Linked DNA regions of Homo sapiens: region 1 is linked to region 2. Evidence: fine-mapped expression QTL. Tissue or cell type: whole blood. Region 2 holds a variant in brackets; the other region holds the start of a gene. All regions are shown on one strand. Distances are between the middles of the regions.

Region 1 (8,095 bases), 66 kb before region 2:
CAGAGTGTTTTCCAACTTGGTTCCATTCTCCCCGTCACTTTCAGGTACACCAATCAGACGTAGATTTGGTCTTTTCACACAGTCCCATATTTCCTGGAAGCTTTGTTCGTTTCTTTTTATTCTTTTTTCTCTAAAGTTCCCTTCTCACTTCATTTCATTCATTTCACCTTCCATCACTGATACCCTTTCTTCCAGTTGATCACATTGGCTCCTGAGGCTTCTGCATTCTTCACGTAGTTCTCGAGCCTTGGCTTTCAGCTCCATCAGCTCCTTTAAGCACTTCTCTCTATTGGTTATTCTAGTTATACATTCGTCTAAATTTTTTTCAAAGTGTTTAACTTCTTTGCCTTTGGTTTGAATTTCCTCCTGTAGCTTGGAGTAGTTTGATCGTCTGAAGCCTTCTTCTCTCAACTCGTCAAAGTCATTCTCCGACCAGCTTTGTTCCATTGCTGGTGAGGAACTGCGTTCCTTTGGAGGAGGAGAGGCACTCTGCTTTTTAGAGTTTCCAGTTTTTCTGCTCTGTTTTTTCCCCATCTTTGTGGTTTTATTTACTTTTGGTCTTTGATGCTGGTGATGTACAGATGGGTTTTTGGTGTGGATGTCCCTTCTGTTTGTTAGTTTTCCTTCTAACAGACAGGACCCTCAGCTGCAGGTCTGTTGGAGTTTGCTAGAGGACCACTCCAGACCCTGTTTGCGTGGGTATCAGCAGTGGATGCTGCAGAACAGTGGATATTGGTGAACAGCAAATGTTGCTGCCTGATCATTCCTCTGGAAGTTTTGTCTCAGAGGAGTACCCGGCTGTGTGAGGTGTCATTCTGCCCTTACTGGGGGGTGCCTCCCAGTTAGGCTGCTCAGGGGTCAGGGGTCAGGGACCTACTTGAGGAGGCAGTCTGCCCGTTCTCAGATCTCTAGCTGCATGCTGGGAGAACCACTGCTCTCTTCAAAGCTGTCAGACAGGGACATTTAAGTCTGCAGAGGTTACTGCTGTCTTTTTGTTTGTCTGTGCCCTGCCCCCAGAGGTGGAGCCTACAGAGGCAGGCAGGCCTCCTTGAGCTGTGGTGGGCTCCACCTAGTTTTAGCTTCCTGGCTGCTTTGTTTACCTAAGCAAACCTGGGCAATGGCGGGCGCCCCTCCCCCAGCCTCGCTGCCTCCTTGCAGTTTGATCTCAGACTGCTGTGCTAGCAATCAGCGAGACTCCGTGGGCGTAGGACCGTCGGAGCCAGGTGCAGGATATAATCTCCTGGTGTGCCATTTTTTAAGCCCGTCGGAAAAGCGCAGTATTAGGGTGTGAGTGACCCGATTTTCCAGATGCTGTCTGTCACCCCTTTCTTTGACTAGGAAAGGGAACTCCCTGATCCCTTGCATTTCCTGAGTGAGGCAATGCCTCGCCCTGCTTTGGCTCGTGCACGGTGCACTGCACCCACTATCCTGTGCCCACTGTCTGGCACTCCGTAGTGAGATGAACCCAGTACCGCAGATGGAAATGCAGAAATCACCCGTCTTCTGCATCACTCATGCTGGGAACTGTAGACCAGAGCTGTTCCTATTCGGCCATCTTGGCTGCCTATCGAGGCCATTATTATTCACTGTTTGGGAGACTGCAATAGTCGTTTCAACAAATGAAATTGATTCCACTTTCCACACTGTAGCCAGAAGGAATATTTCTAAGTCAAATCTCAACATTTGCTTCTCTGCCTACAATTCTTTATTGGTCCCCAGCCTGACCTCCTACTACTCTCCAGGTTTATATGTAAAAACTATTTGCTAGTTTCAGTTATGGGATTGCCCATTTGTCCCTTTTTGTCTGTACATTCTTTTGTTTACAATTTCCTTCTTGGTCTCACAGGTGAATCTTTTCTTCAGCCTCAGCTTCCAGGTTCTCTCCTCTGAGAAACCATCCTAAATCATCCAGATGGTAAGGCATGTTCTCTCAGATCAACAATTATCTTTATTATGTAACTGCCAGGCGTTAACTGTGTATGCTGGAAATTGAACTGTGAAGACAGTGTTTCCTGTCCTCATAAAGTATATAGAGAGGGAGACTAACATTTTAGACAGTTTAGTCAGTTTTATTGAATGCTATAAAGATGTCGTGTTATGATTATAATATATGTATACCTTATATGCACAGTATGTTACGGACGTATAACCATCTTAGGAGAGTATCAGAGGCCAGCTTCCCTTGGAGACATTGAAATTTAATGGGTGGTCCCATTATAACCTTTAGAATTCTCTATTAAAAAGTACCTGGGCAAATGCTTTTGAATTGTTGCTGTGAAAATACTATTTTGACTAGCTAATACGTTATATACCACAACTCTCAAAAGATCCTTTTGACCATCACAAATCTAAGACTGATCTACAATCTATGGGCAGATTGAAGTCCACAATTTAAATTTATGTATAACAGGTAGTATGTACAGGATCTTCTACTCCTAGCAATAACCTAGCCAGTATTATCCCTATTTTATAGATAAGGAAGTTGAGGCTCAACTATTCCAAAGTCCCCCTATTCAGCAGTTGAGTCAGTCAGTGGTCCCAACCCAGGGGTTTCAGGACGCCAAGCTCTCTTTCCACCATGCACTTGCCTACTTCTGTATCTTATTTCCAGAATCTTCTAGTGTTTAGTCGCTAGTAGGTGCCTCACAAATAAATACACGTGAAAGCCTAATGCTAAAAGTAGCATTATTTTTACTATCAACCTCACCAACACACACTACGACTTCATCCCATTAGGACTGAGAGGCTTTCCACATCTGGTTTAAAGCTTGCACAAAAAATAGTAATTCCAAGCTGTGCATTAAACCCCATTACACCCTGTTTTGTACTCAATGCCACTAATTTCCCACAACGTCGTCAGGGAAAAAAACGACAACAAAAACATCTTTTGACAATATTAGTCTTCTAAGTCCGCCTTCCACGTCCCTCTAAGGGCCCCAGCTCCGGGTCCGTCTTCTTAGGCACTCAAGGTTTCTAAACTTGGGGCTTCCAGCCGGTAAAACTAAAGGCACGGGGTTCAGGGGTCATTGGAGGCCCACGGGACCCCCTTAACCCCTTCCACCCCTTCCCTATTCGCCCATCTCCATGTCGTCTCCTTAGCCTTTGAGTGGAAAAAGCGTCAGCCCGAAATCCCCACCAAGCCCAAGAATGGGCAAAACCTCGGCGCGCACAGGACCAGCGAGAAGAGGATGGTTCCGGCCCTGAGACTAGAGCGGCGGCGACGCTCGGCGTACGCGCTGCCGTCACGCCGCAGCCCGGCAGCGCAGGCTCCTCCCACGACGCTGCGGGTCCGGTTTCCGGCGGGAGCGTGGGCCGCCAGACTCGGGAGAGGCTCCGTCTTGTGCAAGGGTCCTGTGGGCTGGCTGCACTGGCCTCTGCGGTGGTGCCTGCCAGAATGCCCCACTTGGAAAACGTGGTGCTTTGTCGCGAGTCTCAAGTGTCCATCTTGCAGTCCTTGTTTGGAGAGGTATTGTAGTTAAACTGTCTTCCAGATCCTGGAGGCAGACGTTTCGGTAGTCTTGCGACCTGTTCCAATATTTGTTTTTTCGTGTTTGGATTGAGGGCCAAAAGGCCGTTTTTACGTTAAATAGGGGTGTTGTGGTTCTGTACTGCAGCTTCACCCACAGTCTCTTCCGAATATTGAAGAGGAGACAGTCTGAGAGCGACCGGCCTGCACTATAGGACGTTGCCTAAGACGTATTTGAAACACGCCACACTTTTCAGAAGTTTGCCCACATTAGCTCCTAGAAGTTGCTTGTTATCTTACCCCAACCCAATGACATTTATGTAACAGATGTGTTTGCAGGGTGTTATTTATTCAAATGTAAGTTCACACGTTTCTGTGCGGTAGTTGGAGTGAGTCAAGTGTAGAGAGGTGGTTGCTTTCAAGGCCACTAAGGGCCAAAGCAGTGCTTCAGGTTTAAAAATTTACTGGCTTTTCCAGAATTGTAACAGTCCAGAAGAGGTCTAGGGTAAACTTTTCTCCTTAACTGATAGTTCACAGGATGCCCTAGAGAGGAGTTTGTCTTGTCTGGATGAACATAGATACGTAGGGAGTCCTTTCAATAGGCAGAGGGTAGCGTTCACCAATTCAAAATTTAACCTATTTTTGACTATTTTCTGGTGGTCTTTGATGTGCTTTTTGATTCAGACTCAATCAGAATTGGAATTAATCAAACTTGGATCTTACCTGCGAAGAGAGTGAATGAGAATTCAGGGTCATACTCATACCCCCATCTTCTGGTTTGCTTTTTTAAGTACAGTCATGCGTTGCTGCCACTTAGTGAGGGGGATACGTCCTGAGAAATGCATCGTTAGGCAATTTAATCCCTGTGAATATCAGAAAGTGTATTTACACAAACCTAGATGGTGTAGCCTGCTATACACCTAGGCTGTATGGTGTAGCCTGTTCCTCCTAGGCTATAAACCTCTACAGCGGTGCTACTATACTGAATACTGTAGGCAGTTGTAACACAGTGATAAGTCTGCATCTAAAAGTGTCTAAACATAGAAAAGGTACAGTGAAAATAGGGTATTATAATCTTATGAGATCACTGTTGTATATGTGGTCCATCTTTGAATGTACACGTGACTGTACTTTCATCCAACTAGAAATATTGCATGGCAATTTGAGGTGGCCTGTGAAGCATTAGTGGAAAAGTACTACCCTCTGTCTAAAGGGGTGCATTATTTAGGGAAGTTAGAGGTCAACAACTGCATCTTCAATTAATTTTCTATTTATACTGCTTTCAATTATAGTTATATTATTACTGGAGCATTTTCTTGATTATGTTCTCTGCATTTCATCTATGGAACGCAGATCACTCCAGCCAGAAATGTTCCTGCTGAAAGAGCAAATTGGCAAATAGGGATGAGTAAACTTAGTGGTGGATCACAGAAGAGTTTTTGACCTTTGCTTTTAATGAAAATTATGTTTAACAATATTTTAATATCAGTTTTCTGCAAGGTGCTGTGCATGTGGGAAATACAAACAACTATAGCAAAGAAATATAAAAAATTGGTTCATGTTTCTAAGAATACTCATTTATTTGTTCAATAAATAAATATTTACCGAGCACCTTTTCTGTGTCAGGTACTAGCTTATTGCAGTTTATGTTAGCGAGATTTATGAAGGTGAAAGGTTAAATAACAGTGGAACAGTTCAATATAATTCTAGGTCACAATAGAAAAGATGTTTAAGGTATTATTAGGCAACAACATGTAATGGATAGCAGAGATACTCAGCAACATGCATTTAATTCTTGAGACAGAATTTTTTGTTTTTGTTTTTTGAGACAGGGTTTGGCTTTCTTTCCCAGGCTGGAGTGCAGTGGCATGATCTTGGCTCACTGCAGTCTCTGCCTCCCAGGCTCAAGCAGTCCGCCCACCTCAGCCTCCGAGTAGCTGGGACCACAGGTGTTTGCCTCCAAGCCTGGCTATTTTTGTGTTTTTTGTAGAGATGGGGTTTCACTGTATTTCCCAGGCGAACTCCTGAACTCAAGTGATCTGCCTGCCTTGGCCTCCCAAAGTGTTGGGATGACAGGCTTGAGCCACTGCATCCTGCTGAGACAGAATTTTTGGGCCAGTTAATTTATGATTGTTACATATAAACTTCAGAAAAAGATTCATGTATTACATTACCTATTCATTTCAAGTAAATTTTTAGTCTATTTTTAGCAGTTGAGCTGCTTTTGCCATAGCTGTATGCCATTTAGAAAGTCTTTTTCCTGCGTAAATCTGAGTTCCTGATTTGTCTTGTAAAAGGAAATGTTTAACTTAGTGACTTGAATGTAATAAATGTTTGTGACTGTTGCTGTAATCGATGATAATTAATAGAGACTTAACTTTCTGATAGAAATTGCATAATCCCATTTTCTTGTAATTATTTAAAAAAATGTATTATTAAAAAATAGGCCAGGCACAGTGGCTCACACCTGTAATCCCAGCACTTTGGGAGGCTGAGGCAGGCAGATCACAAGGTCAGGAGTTTGAGACCAGCCTGACCAACATGGTGAAACTCCGTCTTAACTAAAAATACAAAAATTAGCTGGGTGTGGTGGCACACACCTGTAATCCCAGCTACTCAGGAGGCTGAGGCAGGAGAATCGCTTAAACCCGGGAGGCAGAGGTTGAAGTGAGCCGAGGTCACGCCATTGCACTCCAGCCTGGGTGACAGGGTGAGACTCCATCTCAAAAAAAAAAAAAAAAAAAAAGAGTATTATTAAAAAATCAAGTTTTCCCGTAATTATTTTAAAAATGTAGACTATAATTTCCTCCAAAGTAGATAATGTCTTTTACTGTTATTTGTTCTCTTCAGTACCTCATGGTTTTCAGCATTTAGTAGGTATCTAATGAAAGCGTTCATTTAAGGAATGAAGTACAAGTATTTGTAGTATTAACTAGACCAGAGAGACCTTTGACAATATTTACTTTTCTCTAAGCTGCTAACCTAATGTACTGCAAGAGGATCTTGCACATATGTATTTTAAAATAAATGCTATGCAGATTTTATTAGTGTTTTATGTGATCTAATGTATGCATTTATGCCAGCATCAGTGAGTATGCATAGTTCAGAAGTAGTCTATAAGTTTTCCTAAGAATGAGGACCCTTGAAATTCCTTTTAATCTTTTGATTATATGTACTTTATTTCATAGCATTAAAATGTATAGTGAAGTTGTGGCATCGCAGGAGATAAGAGTCTTTAAGAAGGAGTAATATAAAAATGGAGTATGAACAAAATTATCCTTGAAAAATCTCTTAAATCTGCTATGAAGTTGAAAATACTAGTTTGTATATGTAAACCTGTACGATAATAAAAATATAAATATATAGTACATAATAAAATATGCCAAATATGTTACATACATTTTAATTTCATAACAAAGAAAGTGCTTAGAGTTGAATTCAAGTAGGTTCAAAGTGTGTTGATGCATCCACAATATGCTCATTGTTAGGAATTTGGATTGAATATTTCACTTTTCCACGTACAACTTTCTCACAAGTTGATAAGTGTTTATTTTCTATTTTGTATGTGCAGCCTCATATTTGTCTTTTCTCTCGTTAGAGACATCATTTCAGCTTTCCATCCATTTTTATTTATGGACATACTGCTAGTGGAAAGACCTATGTAACACAAACGTTGTTGAAAACTTTAGAGGTAAGAATAAAAATATTAAATATTTCTTTGCCATTTTTAGTGTATAATATTGGTACTGATAATTGTGAATCTCCACAAATGCAAAATTGAACATACCACCTTTACATTACTCTCCTTCCCATATTATCTTTCTCCATGAATGGTCTACTGTCATTGACACAGTTGTCCAAACTTGCACTTTCTTAACTCTTTCCTCATCTTCCCTCATTTAGTAAATCACATCAATAAACTTAGTCTGTTGCTTCACATTGTTAAAATCATGTCTCCATCTACCTTTAATCCTAGCCATTGCTGCTAGGATTTTCATTTACCATTGTTTTTTTTCCATGTATTTCTGTAAGCCTCTTATTTGCAATCTTCACCCAGCAGCTAGGCCATGCAAATCTTAATATTTTCAGGACAGTGTTCAAGTAATTCGCCCATTGTATAAGACCTTTCATGAGCTGAATTTATCTTTCATAACACAGTGGTTAAGAGTTTGGGCTGTGGAGTCTGGCAGACTCATGTTCCTTTTTGGATTCACCAGTTAGTGCTTTCTCCATCTGCAAAGTTGGCTCATAGTGACAACATTTGGGATTAAGAGAATTAAATGTTAGCACATGGAAAGTGCTTTCTGCAGTACATAGTGCGTAGTAAGCACTCAATAAAGGTTAGCTGCTATTATTGATGAGTATTGCCATACTCCCTTTCATATCCTAAACCAGAGATGGGCAGTCTTTTTCTTAAGGGCCGGATAACTAACATTTTGTGCTTGTGGACCACGTAGTTTCTGTCTCACCTGCTTGACTCTACTGTATTGTGAAAGCAGCCATGGGCATTCTCTATGTGAATGGGCATGACTGTGTTTCAAAGCAACAGTATGTACAAAAACAGGTGGCTAGCCCACAGGCTTTGGCTTGCTAACCCCGTCCTCCTCTAGCACTGAGGATGCACGTTTA
Region 2 (8,110 bases):
TTTCCAAACTAAGAAGGCTATTTGTCTTATCTTGGTTTTCAGCAATATTTACTGTCCCCCAAAGACCCCTGTATCCCTTGGTTGCCCATCCTGTTCTGTGTCTTTTTCCTGTATAGTAAAGGTCTCAGGCAGTTAGATGGGAAAGGCTCGGCCCCACCTCTCCCTTATTTATGCATATACATGCATGCATGTGAAACTGAGACACCACGATGAATCTGAGTACTCATTGTCTAGAGACTTTTTGTCAGATCCACACTGACCATATCAGACTACATAGGTATTAATACTAGCCTGGAGATCTGAGTTCATATTGTCATGAACATTTAAAGTGGAGCAAGGAAGTAAATAAGTATTTTTTATGATCCTGTTCATTATTTATTTATTTGTGAGACGGTGTCTCGTTCTGTTGCCCAGGGTGGAGTACAGTGGCACGATCTCAGCTCACTGCAATCTCCGCCTCCCAAGTTAAAGCGATTCTCCTGCCTCAGCCTCCAGAATAGCTGGGATTACAGGCACATGCCATCACGACCGGCTAATTTTTTGTATTTTTAGTAAAGACGGGTTTTTGCCCTGTTGGCCAGGCCTGTCTCGAACTCCTGACCTCAGGTAATCTGCCTGCCTCGGCCTCCCAATGTGCTGGGATTACAGGTGTGAGCCACTGCTCCCAGCCTCATTTTTAAATGCACAGTACCTAGAGTAAGTCCTCAAGAGTTTCATGGATATATAGTTGGAAATAAAAATTAGCCAATTTAAGGATTGGATAATAGAAAGGAAGGTGGATATTCTGCTATTTATGCATATATAGAAATAATTTTTAAAGTTTTATATGTATTTTTCCAGTAGTTTTCATTTAGTAAGTTAATAAACTAATACGTTTGAGATTCAAAATGTTGACTCCACTAATTAATCTTTGTGCTTGATTTTGTTTTCAATTTTACTCTAGCAAAATTTTAATAAACTGGGAAAGTACCTTTAAATATTTGGTACATTTGTTCACTCCTTTTTTTATTTTTATTTTTATTTTTGAGACAGAGTCTTGCTCTGTCACCCAGGCTGGAGTGCAGTGGTGCGATCTCAGCTCACTGCAACCTCCACCCCCTGGGTTCAAGCAATTCTCATGCCTCAACCTCCCAAGTAGCTGGGATTACAGGCACGTGCCACCATGCCCAGCTAACTTTTGTATTTTTAGCAGAGACGGGGTTTCACCATGTTGGCCAGGCTGATCTGAAACTCCTGGCCTCAAGTGATCTACCTGTCTCTGCCTCCCAAAGTGCTGGGATTACAGGTGTGAGCCACCGCACCCGGCCTGTTCACTGCTTTATGTAATAGATATTCTTCTGAATATCTATTATTTGTATATTTGTGTACAATTTATATATATGAATATTTTTATGTTGAGTTTTTCAGTGATTTTCACATGATAAAGTCAACAAATGACTGAAATGAGTTTTTTTAATGTGAAAAATCACATTCTAATTTAATTGCTTTTTTTAGGTTTAGTTCTTTTAATGTATTAGCTTTTCCTAAATCATCCCTACCCCTAAAAAAATTGATCAATCATCTTATTAATATTTTGGAAGTTCCTTTTAGCTGCTGCATCTTCAGCTGAAGTGATATTATATTCTTTGCACAATTTACATGATTAATTTAGCCGGGGAATCTTGGTAGAACTGAAAGTGACTTCAAGGGCTTGTTTGTTCCAACTTTCTGCCTTTGGACATTTGTTACAACTAATGTGCTAAAAGTAAAAAACTGTAAGGCATCTGAAAATATTCTTGAGACCCTAACTTAACTATATTAAAGACAGATTTTGTGTTTTTCTATGAAAAAATTGTGGAAAAAGTAATTTAGCATACAATTTCGATTAAAGAATCTAAATATGTGAGTGTTCGAATTAACAGGAAAGTATCAGTTATGAGAAATATTATAAGGAAATGTCAGTGGCAAAGTACAGGGTAATTAATGTTTTCTTCTGTATTAAAAAAAAAGTACTAAGGGGAACTGCCTTTAATAATAGAGTTCAATGCATGATTTTTCAAATAGCTATTACTAACCTATTTTAGCAAACGAATCCCTTACAGAAAAATAGAAAGGGTTGAAGTTAATATACTTAGCAATAAAAGACTATGTTCACTCTTCACTACATATCTTCCCATTCATTAAAATTTCAGGCCTACTGTCATTATAGATTTCTACCTGTTTCCACACTGGGAAGGCTATTGAATTTGTCTTGTCTTGGGTTTTAGCAGTACTTACTCTCCCACGAAGACTCCTGGATCCCTTGGCTGTCCATCCTTTCTGTGTCTCTTCTTTTCATAGTAAAGGTGTCAAACAATTAATCTTTTAAGAGATACGAGCTCAGGGCCTGCATTTTATCATTATTAAGTGAACCTTTCTTTAAACCTCATTTCATGTCTGTTTTGTCTGATGTTTAACATATTTTCATCATTGTTCGTTTTATTAGAATTTGTGTGACATATCTCAATTTTGTCTTTGACCTTTAACTTTCACATGTGCTTCCATTTTATATGTATCTCTTTTAAACAAAATGCAGTTTGATTTTTTCAGTCTTTTTATTTTATTTGAAGCATTTCATTTACTTTTAATACAATTGTTAATATAATTTTGTTTCTATTATCTTGTTTATGCCATTTGATTTACCTGATTTTTTTTCTCCCATTCTGTAGATTGCCTTGTCATTTTATTGGTTGTTTCCTTTGCTGTGAAGAAGCTGTTGAGTTTGATGTAGTCTCATTTGTTTATTTTTGCTTTTGTTTCCTGTGCTTTTGGCAGCCTATCCAAAAAAATCATTGCCAAAACTAATATCAGGGAGTTTTTTTCCCTACGTTTACTTTTAGGAATTTTATTGTTTCATGTCTTACATTTAAGTCGTTAGTCCATTTGAATTAATTTTTGTGTATGGTGTAAGATGAGAGTTCAGTTTTATTTTTTGTGCATGTGGATATCCAATATTTCCAGTACCATTTATTGAAGAGACTATCCTTTTCCCATTGTGTATTTTTGGTACCCTTGTCAAAGATTAGTTGACCTTATATGTGTGGTTTTATTTCTGGACTTTCTGTTCTGTGGATCTGTGTGTCTGTTTTTATGCCATTACCATACTGTTTTGATTACTGTAGTTTTGTATTAATAATATACTTTGAAATAAGGAATTGTGATACCTCTAGCTGTGAAAAATGCCATTGGAATTTTGATGGGGATTGCATTGAATCTGTAGATTGCATTGGGTAGTATGGACATTTTAAAAATCATAATTCTTCCAGTCCTTGAACACAGGTATCTTTTCACTTATTTGTGTCGTCTTGAATTTCTTTCATCAGTGTTTTATAGTTGTTAGTGTATAAATAATTCACCTTCTTGATTAAATTTATTCTTACATGTTTTATTCTTTTTGATGCTGTTGTAAGTTAGATTTTTTTAAATTTCGTTTTTTGATAGTTCATTGTAAGTGTATAGACATGTTTGTTGATTTTTGTATTCTGCAACTTTACTGAAAGCATTTATTAGTTCTAACAGCTTTTTGGTGCTCATTTATAGTTATAAATATTTAGAACATCCCTGTGTGGCTGAAAGATTATTATGATGATTTTTGGTTTTGAAAATTGAGGTCCACATTGTTGAACTGACCAGTCTGAAGTCTACTGCTAGCAAGTGGCAAAAGATAGATCTTACTAACTTTAAATGTTTTTTTCTCTTAAACTATGTTCTCTCTCTTCTGAAATCAGAAGATTAAGTGTGGAATCTGAATGGGCCCAGTGGTGAGAGTGGGAATGAGGTAATTGGATGATCTTAATACCTTAAGTGACAGCCAGGCAGCTCCACCTCTACGGTGAATACAAATTTGTAGCATATACCAGATTTCTAAGTTAATGGGCAAAGAGTCCTGTATCTTAGTGCTAGAGGCATACTGCTGGGTTTATTCTGTTGAATGCTCCCTTTATGACTATTTTGCAGATCATCCTAATTCTTTTAGCACACACTCTTTTCAGGCCGGAGTATAATACATCTGTTAGATCTGCACTTTCTTAGCTGTGATCACAGCTTATGCATGTTTTTTAAAAGTTTTGGAGTTGGAGTTAGGAGATTTAATTCCTAGTCAGGTGAGTTTCTGGCACCATCTGGGCATTACCACTTTGATCAAGTTACTAAACATCTTAGTTTTAATGTTGGTTAAATTAACAATT[T/C]GAATCTAGCAATCTTCTAATGCAGAGGTCAGCAAACCTTTTCAGTAAAGGGATACATAGTAAATATTTTAGACTTTGCAGGCTAAAAGGCAAAATGTAGGATATTATGTAGATACCTTAATAAGTAAGAGAAAAAAACTCTTGTTGCACCCTACCTCATTTGCCTGGGGTAAGTCATCCCACATGGTGGGCATGCTTTGTGCTCTGTTGTCATCAGCTGGAGACATTCTTGGAATAAAGCAAGAAGGGGCCTGGTGGGCAGAACAGGCAGGGTGGCCACCATGGTCATTTTCACTCTGTCACAGTGACACCCAGGTTCCCATGCACCCTTCTTTCCTCCCAGAGAACCTAGCTGCCTCAACAAATTTCAGAGGATTGCTAGTATGCAGATCACATTCTGTGATCCCCCAGAAACAAAACAAAAAACTGGAAAAACTCTGTAAGTTGGAAATAAAGGAGGACTTCCAAAATAGCAAGAGAGCCGAAAAAGAAATCAAAATGGACATTCGAATTAAAAGGACTATAGAACTACTTACAAGGTAGTGAAAGTAAAAAGAGATAAGAAAATATAATTACAACAAAAGGTAAGAAAGGAATGAGAAAAAGGAAAGGAGGGACAAATAGGTCAATATAACAGTAGAAAGAAAAATTTTAGAAAATCATTAGATATATTAAAAACAAATGGAGTCTATGGTCCTAATGAAAGGTAAAAGTTGTCAGACTGATTATAAAAACAAAATCCCACTATATGTTATTTACATGAGAACTGTTTTAAATTGAGAAAACATCAACCTTGAAAGTAGAATCATGAAAAGTAACAGAAAAAGGCAGAGCACATAAAGGAATGCTAATATAGCTATATTAAGATTAGAAAAAAATACACTGTAAGCTAAGACATTACTGGAGAATAAAAGGGTTATTATAATGAAAAGGTTTGTCAACAAAACGTAATTTTAAATCTGTATGTATGTTACCTAGTAACATAGCTTAAAAACTACAAAGCAGAAAGATTCTATGATAACAAAAGAATTTTAATACCTCTCTCAGTTTTGATCAGGCAGATTTTAAAAATGGTGTATATAAGATTTAACAATACAAATAATGTCTTTGTTACATATGTGTCTTGTGTAATAGACATATATGTAACAAAGCAATAGACATGTAACAAAGAACATAACATTTGCAAAATACATATTCTTTTCAACGCACAATATTTATAAAAGATATTTCAAGGTGTAACCTAATTATTGATACTGAATTAGAAATTAAAGTCTTAGCCTTTTGAATGCAGAGCTTTGTATTTTGATGTATTAATATAAATTGCTTTTCTAGTTGAAATATTTCTTATTTACTGAATATAGGATTTTCTCTACATAAGATACTCTATATGAGATATTTATTATCTGTTCACCCTTTAATTTGTTAGTAAAGTAATCGACTAAATACTGCATGATAATTTTCCCTTTAAAATGGTAATGGGAAATGTAATATAGTAAGATGATCATGGTTTCTTGAATTCTTGCTAAGCCAGTAGATCTGGAATATGGAGAAAGTTACTTAAGATCTCTAAGGCTTATCTATAAAAAAAAGTATAATAATGTCCACCTTGTGGACATGAAGGTAATGAGGAATAACATGAGATAATGTGTATAGAGTACTTAATACCAAGCAAATTACTACTGCTGTTAGTGTTTTTATTATTCATGGGATGTTTACTTAGCATTTGTAAAGTATTAGTCTCAAATTAAGTGAGCATTTTAATTCCTAAGACACATGATTAGGTATTACAGATAGTTTAACTTAAAACTCTTATTCATATTGCCACTGAGCAGTTACAGGTAACTAAGTCTCCAAATTTTATCTTACTGCCATTGCTGACTCTTTTTCCTGCTGGCTTATGGGAGACAAAAATAAGAAATTAGGAGAAGACAATGGGCGCTCAAAGAATTTCAGCTCTTGGATCAGCTTCCTTTCTTAGATTTCAGAGAACTTAATATTTTAGTTGGCCATATGAATGTTAAGTGATTTTGTACTTTGATTTTGACCTATCAAAATACACTTTTGCTTTTACTAATAATCCTTCTGGTGTTTTCCTGAGTACACGATCAGCAATAAGTTTTAAAGCAATGGTTGGGTGCGGGGGCTCACGCCTCTAATCCCAACACTTTGGGAGGCTAGGCAGGTGCATCACTTGAGCCCAGGAGCTCAAGAGCAGCCTGGACAACATGGCAAAACCCCATGTCTACAAAAAATACAAAAAATTAGCTGGGTGTGGTGGCATGTGCCTATAGTACCAGCTACTCAGGAGGCTGCTGTGGGAGGATCACCTGAGTCTGGGGAGGTTGAGGCTGCAGTGAGCCATGATTGCGCCACTGCAATCCAGCATGGATAATGGAGTGAGACCCTGCCTCAGAAAAAAAAAAAGAAAGAAAAGAAGGAAAGAAAGTTTTAAACCAAGACTAAGCCCAGGTCTGAAGGATGTATTTCTTATCTCTCATCTAACCAGCTACCTAACTCTTAAAAAGACCTAAATCCATATTATTGTTTTATACCCAAAGGAGTATAGATTTTATATTCTGAGTTATTTAGATAGATATTCTGTAAAATTTTTAGAGGAGGAATGTGCTTTATTTGCAGCTTTTAAAGGTTTAGCGGTCATGTGTCTGAGTAATGAAACAAAGCTGTCTCTAGTGGAATTCTTAGGGACTGATTGTTTGAATCAGTTGTTGAGCTAGGAATCTTGGTTGGGCTGAGTGCAGTGACTCACACCAGTAATCCCAGTGAAACAGGAAAAGTTCCCTTGTCCCCCTTCCAGGGGTAGTGGCTTGCTTCTTCAGTGTCCCGCTGCTCAAACCTCTAATGGGAGCATGCAGACGGGCAGGTTGTGGGGCTCCAATCTCACGGCCGCATCTAGGGATGAATGCTTACAGCTCCTGAAGCCGCAGTGGGCGTGTTACAGTGTGCTCTTTTAGTTTTGCCATCTATAGGTGGCTTGTGTTAGCTCAATTAGACCCTCTGCCTTATTGGAAGGAGAGAGGGCTTTCTGTATCCTTAGTTCTTGCCTTGCTGTACCGAAAAATCCGATCAAATGTGGGCTTGGAAAATGAGTGCAAGGTTTTATTGAATAGTGGAAGTAGCTCTCAGCAGATGGTTGGGGAGCCCGAAGGAGGATGGAGTGGGAAGGTGGTTTTCCCCTGAAGTCTAGCCGCTCTTGGCCAAACTCTGTGTTGTCCCACCGTAGGTGGCCTGCTGGCATCTGCTGGTGTCTGCCGGTATGTTGCTCTCGATGTCCAGCCGCTTGCTTGTTCTTCTGCCAGTGTATTCCTCTTAACGTCCAGCCACTTGTATCTCTACCTGCTAGGGTCTCGGGGTTTTTATAGGCACAGGATGGGGGCATGGTAGCCAGGGTGGTCTTGGAAAATGTAATATTTAGGCACAAAAACTGAAATGCCAGCCCTTACCTAGGTCTGTGGGCTCAGACTTGGAGTGGAGCACTAGCCAGGGACCATGGCCTTCTCTGCCCAGCACTTCCCTGCCCCCCTCCTGTATCACCGACCCTTTGGGAGGCCAAGGCAGGAGAATCACAAAGCGAGGAGTTCAGGACCAGCCTGGACAACACAGTGAGACCCTGTCTCTACAAAACAATAAAAAATTGTTTTTTTTTTTTTTGTAGGCACATTTAAAAAATGTGCCTGTAGTCCCAGCCACTTGGGAAGACTGAGTTGAGAGGACCACTTGAGCCCAAGAATTTGAAACTCCAGTGAACTGTGATCAAGCCATGCCACTCTAGCCTGGGTAACAGAACGAGACCATATCTCTAAGAAAAAAAAAAAAAACAAAACTAGGACTCTGACAACTAGTCTTGGTTGTTAGACTGGAAAACATATGTACAAATTTGTATTTAC

What was found. PIP is the estimated chance that this variant, and not a neighbour inherited with it, causes the effect.
Region 1: it holds the start of ORC5, and the variant in region 2 is fine-mapped to the expression of ORC5 in whole blood (TOPMed, PIP above 0.99).

What each region holds. Positions count from the first base shown.
Region 1 is chr7:104,203,204-104,211,298 of GRCh38, reverse strand. ORC5 (origin recognition complex subunit 5) reads left to right here and starts at 3,286. Exons shown (of 14, transcript NM_002553.4): 1 at 3,286-3,466; 2 at 7,065-7,157. The coding sequence starts at 3,395. RefSeq lists enhancers at 3,108-3,267, 3,318-3,397, 3,438-3,627.
Region 2 is chr7:104,137,034-104,145,143 of GRCh38, reverse strand. All of the region lies in intron 12 of ORC5 (origin recognition complex subunit 5), which reads left to right. Among named protein-coding and RNA genes, the nearest start is that of ORC5, 67 kb to the left of the region's middle. The variant T/C (reference allele first, on the strand shown) is at 4,206.